Regions from separate parts of the Homo sapiens genome. Here region 1 is linked to region 2. Evidence: fine-mapped expression QTL. A gene starts in region 2. The other region holds a variant in brackets. All regions are shown on one strand. Distances are between the middles of the regions. Region 1 overlaps NLGN3 (neuroligin 3). Region 2 holds the start of IL2RG (interleukin 2 receptor subunit gamma).

Region 1 (2,500 bases), 42 kb after region 2:
TTTCTCCTGTGGGAATCAGGGTCAGCTGAGGCCCAGCTTGAGCCTGCCCACTGGGCCCCAGGAGCTCAGGCCTGGGGTCCCTCTACACGTCTCTGCCCTAAGTACCTCGTATCCACAACCTCCACACTTGCTGGCAGTGTCACCCCTCACCCTTGGTACCTGACCCTGCTCTCCAGCTCGACCTGCCTGTGTACACACAAGCAGCCCCTTCCACCCAGAATGAATCCTTCCCCTGAGAGGGTCTCTGGCTCTGTGCCCTGGCCCACTTGCTGCTACCTCCTTCCTCACTGGAAAGGTAGTTGGTTGAGATGGGCTGTTGGGGACAAGGAGGCGGGGCAAGGCGGTGCAGAGAGGCCAGCACAGCAGGGGCCTGCAACACCATCATCCTGATGAAGGTCTGGGCCTCAGCCCACCCATTCCCTCAGTTCTTGCCATCCCTCCTGCCTGTCCTGGGCCCAGGCCCGGAGCTGGCTTGCTGGGCCACACTGCAGTCATGCTGTTTTTGAATTCTCTCTCTGTTTTGTTCTCTGTTCTGTGCTGTTGTGTCTCCCCGTGTCTGGTCCCCAGGATCCGGCGCTAAGAAACAGGGCGAGGACTTAGCGGATAATGACGGGGATGAAGATGAAGGTATTTGGGGGCTGCAGGGCGCGGCGGCTGGTGCATGGCACAGAGCCCCTCCCCTTCTCGATGGGGAGAAGCCCCGTCTGTCTGTCTGTCTGTCCGTTGGTGTGTTTCTGTTCCTGTACAAGGCCGTTGGGCTGTTCATCTGTCTTTGGCCCTGTTGGCCACTGGGAGTTCCGGGGTGATGGACATGGCTGGCAGGAGCAGGGGACCACAAGCAGAGCCATGGGGAGGACATCCTCCTTGCCTGGGTCTCCCGCCCCTTCCCCATCTTCTGTGGTTCAGAGGCACCTGCCCCTACTGAGCAGCAGGGAGAGTGGAGAGAAAGCAGGACCACTGAGGGCGGGGAGAGGACAAAGACAACGGAACGGCAAGGAGATTACCTGTGTTTCAGTGAAGAGACCCCTGTGTCTCACAGGGAGCCTGGCTTCTGGGAGAGGGGCCCCGCAGGATGGTGAACTGGGAAGTGAGGCAGTGACAACCAAAGGGGCTGGAAAAGCAGCACCAGAACCTCCCCAGCCTTCTAGAAAAGAGAGAGATGGTCTCGGGGCTAGGGGCTGCAGTAGGTACAAGACAAGGCCAGAAAGACTGGGCTAAAATGCCAGGCTGAGGCCAGGACACCACAGCCATCAATAGATGGCATAAGATCCTTGGGCAATGATCGGACCAGCCTTCCTCCTTGGAGAAACAAGTTCTGTTTGCTCCGCAGCAGAGAGCATTCCCTTCCTCCTCCATGCCCTGGCCCTGCCCCTCTGCCCCGAAGGGGCCAGGCAGCTCAGGGGGGCCCAGTGGTGATGGGTAGGGCTGTGCTGGCATGGCAGAG[A/G]GTATTGGTCCAGTTCACGGACTGACAGGCTACAGGCAGAGGTGATCAGGCCTGGAGCCTTCTCTTGACTGCCCCAGCCCTGATGCCGTGCCGCCTGGGCTCGGGAGCAGCCGCTTGATGGTCCCTTGTTGAATGGCCTCTGGGGAGGCTCCATCTTCATCTTGGTGCTGACTGGGAGCAGGCTCTGTCATTCTTAGTTCTTCCCCATCCCCAATGCTTCTGGTTAAGTCTGCCCAGGGAGAATGGGGAAATGGGCACATGGCTAAGAAACCATGTCAACAAGGTTCCCCCCACCCTATCTCTGCCATTCACTCCCCTTTCCCACATCCTTCCTTGTTCTCTCCCTGTGCCACCCCTTATTCCCACACCTCTTGTCTCTGTCTGCACTGGGGGGCCAGCTGCTGCCAATGGCCGTTTTTCCATGTAACTGGTCTAGTCTTGGGGGTTTCAGGGCTCCCCAGCTCCTGCTCTCTAAAGCCATGTCAGGTCCCAGGACTCCTGGGTGCCCAGGGCAGCGACTCACTTGATGTGGCTAAAGGACCAGCCCTTCCTCTTTCTGCTGCCCCCCGCCCCCAGGGCCCAGCCATGGCCCACTGAGGCCTGGCTGTATCACATGCCTGGCTGCCTTCAGCTGGGAGGCACTTGAAACCAGAGCCTTTAAAAATATCACTGAAGCCCCACTGTCTCGGGCTGATGCTTGAGCTCCAGGTTGAGCAACCCCATGAGTCCTGCCCTCAGGGATGGCGGTGGTGTCCTGGCACCTGGGATAGCTTTGCTGCCCGCACCCACCCCCTGGGCTGGCAGGGGTGGGGGAGCAAGGGCATCCCACCCAGCCTGTGTCTCACCCCTTCTCCTTGCAGACATCCGGGACAGTGGTGCTAAACCCGTCATGGTCTACATCCACGGAGGCTCTTACATGGAAGGGACAGGCAACATGATTGATGGCAGCATCCTCGCCAGTTATGGCAATGTCATCGTCATCACCCTCAACTATCGGGTTGGAGTGCTAGGTATGGTTCCCTGCCTGGTGCCTGGAAGGAAGACTGGCTTCGCAAG
Region 2 (2,925 bases):
GCATATGTGGTCATTCCCCTGGCCTAGACAAGTCAGGATCCTGAAGGTAGTGCCCCTAATACCTCCTCCCTTCCCATCATGATCCCCTACCTCCTCTTTTCTGCCCATGTACCCTTATGATAAAAGAACACTACTCTGTAGACTCCAATGTCCCACAGTATCCCTGGTCTCTTGACCCTTTCTTTCCAAATTACCCAGATTCTGCAGTTTTAGCATCTGTGTGGCCTGTCTCCTGGGTTCCCGTGGGTCCTGGAGCTGAACAACAAATGTTTGGTAGAGGTGGATCTCCTTTTTTTGCAACTGACAGCCAGAAGTGATTTCTTCAGAGAATAGATAGTGGCTGCACTTCTGGACTTTATCATTATCCGAGTTCTTGTACCTAGAGGAGAAAGGTTGGAAGGAAGAGGAACAGTGGGGCCAATCTGGGTACTGCAGATATCCAGAGCCTAGCCTCATCTCCCCTCAACCGACTTATGACTTACCCCAGGAGAAAACAGTGGGGTACCTGGGAGACTTGCTACCCTCTCTCTTGGTCTCTGATCCAACCCACCTCTTCTTCATCCCCTCCCCCTCGTCCCTTCTCATACCAATAATGCAGAGTGAGGTTGGTAGGCTGGGGCTCAGAGCTGCTGTTCCAAGTGCAATTCATGTACTCGACATTGAACACAAAACACTGAACCTCTGGGAGGGGCAGAGTGGAAACACTGAGGGAGTCAGTGGGCATAGTGGTCAGGAAGAAATCTAGATTGGGGAGAAAATGAAGGCAGGGAGGGAAAGAGAAATGATGGTCAGAAGGAGGAGGCCAAGCACGGTGGCTCATGTCTGTAATCCTGGTGCTTTGAAAGGCTGAGGCAGGAGGATCACTAGAGGCCAGGAGTTTGAGACCAGCCTAGGCAACATAGTGAGACCCTGCCTCAAAAGAAAGAAAGAAACAAACAAACAAGAAAGAAAGAAGAAGTAGCGTGAGGCAGGGAACCCTCCCCCTTGCCCTTCCCACTCCACTTTTCAATTCTGCCCACATGATTGTAATGGCCAGTGGCAGGCACCAGATCTCTGTACGGCCCCTTCCCACAGCCACCCTTCTCACCAGCCCCCTCCAGTCCCAGATTTCCCACCAGCTGTGGTGTCTTCATTCCCATTGGGCGTCAGAATTGTCGTGTTCAGCCCCACTCCCAGCAGGGGCAGCTGCAGGAATAAGAGGGATGTGAATGGTAATGATGGCTTCAACATGGCGCTTGCTCTTCATTCCCTGGGTGTAGTCTGTCTGTGTCAGGAACCTGGGTCCCTCACCCACTACCCCTCCCCACCCACACGTTTCCTCTGTCATAGCTTCCGGTGGAAAGAACCTTATAAACCAGGGCTTTACAGAGGGTGTGGCAAATATGTGCTGTGTGACACGGGCTAAGTCCTCTAGGAGATTAGGTGCTGCTGTAAGGTGGTAAACAGAAACTAAAGCTGGATATACAATAGTGTCACAGACTCAAAAATCCTCAGCCCACCTAGATCCTGGGAAGGATCTGTTCACTACCACTAGCACCATTCTCAACCACCTTCTCCTCTAAATCATTACCTTCTATAATGGAAGTTCTGAACCCCCACCCCCGACATCACCGTTCTATGCCATGCCTCTTCCTTGACTTGGTCACCCTTAAATCTCTGTCAAAGCTCTACTGTTTTGGGAGGATGGAAAATACCGTCTTGGCTCCTGTGGGCACATATACAGCTGTCTTTCCTCTGATCTAATCCAAACCAGAATACCCACCCTTAGCTGCTGCCTGAGCTGGGTCCCTGTTGAGACTGGCGAGGAAGTGTGACTTATAATACAAAAATATTCTAGAAATGGAGGAACAACAATACTAGCTTCAAGCTTCCCATCTTCCCCCAACTCTGCTTCTCTTCCTGCCTTCCCCACCTCAGTCAATGGTATCGTCACCCTCTCAGTCACCCAGACTTGAAACCTCAGAATCAGCTTCAATTTCTCCCCCTCTCTCACCCAGAGAATATAACCCACTCTGCTTCTGTGGTGTTTCTCCCAACGGTTTCCTCCTTTCCATTACCACAGCCACTCTGCTAAATCAGTCTTTCATTAGCTCTAGTCATGATTCTATCTAGACTCCATCAACTGGCCTCCCTTTCTAAAGGCCCTCTGCTCTCTAATCCATTCTTCATCCTGTTGCCAGTTTTACCTTCCCCGAAAACACAGAGGTGATTGGAGAAGCCACTTACAGAAACTATTTATTCAGCAAACATTTATTACGTTTTTAATATGTGCCAGGCACTGTGCTTATGTTCTGGAAATAGACCAACAAGACATCCTCATATTTCTAGACACTCACAGAAAAGTGGGGAAGACATAAACAAGTAATACAACATAGTGTAACAAGTCCTATAGCATAAATGTAGAGATACTACAAAGTATGTGAGCACAGAAGAGGAAGTAACTAAATTTACCAAGATGGAGAGGGGGATAGTTTAGTGAAGGCTGTGCTGAAGAGGTGCTATTTCAGTGGCATCTTAAAGAATGAGTGTAATTTTACCAGACAGAAAGTGGTGTAGGATATTAAGCAAAGAAAAACAGCACTTGCCTGGGAGTCTCAGGAAAACTGGACTATATGGCCCAGCTTAGTATTTAGTATGTATCTTTAGTATGTATTAGTTTGCTAGGGCTGCCATAAGTTATCCCCAAACTGAGTGGCTTAAACCAACAGAAATTTATTCTCTCGGCTGGGTGCAGTGACTCACGCCTGCAATCCCAGCACTTTGGGAGGCCAAGGCAGGTGGATTGCTTGAGGAGTTCGAGACCAGCCTGGCCAACCTGGTGAAACCCCGTCTCTACTAAAAATACAAAAATTAGCCAGACATGGTGGCAACACCTGTAATCCCAGCTACTCGGGAGGCTGAAACATGAGAATCGCTTGAATCTAG

Evidence for each region. PIP is the estimated chance that this variant, and not a neighbour inherited with it, causes the effect. A credible set is the group of variants that fine-mapping cannot tell apart.
Region 1: its variant is the best candidate, but not a certain one, in a credible set for the expression of IL2RG in whole blood (TOPMed, PIP 0.70).

Annotation. Positions count from the first base shown.
Region 1 is chrX:71,152,910-71,155,409 of GRCh38, forward strand. It overlaps NLGN3 (neuroligin 3), which reads left to right. Exons shown (of 8, transcript NM_181303.2): 4 at 568-627; 5 at 2,305-2,454. Among named protein-coding and RNA genes, the nearest start is that of NLGN3, 9.3 kb to the left of the region's middle. RefSeq lists an enhancer at 274-773. The variant A/G (reference allele first, on the strand shown) is at 1,445.
Region 2 is chrX:71,110,310-71,113,234 of GRCh38, forward strand. IL2RG (interleukin 2 receptor subunit gamma) reads right to left here and starts at 1,268. Exons shown (of 8, transcript NM_000206.3): 1 at 1,116-1,268; 2 at 588-741; 3 at 195-379. The coding sequence starts at 1,230. RefSeq lists enhancers at 729-1,928, 1,031-1,420.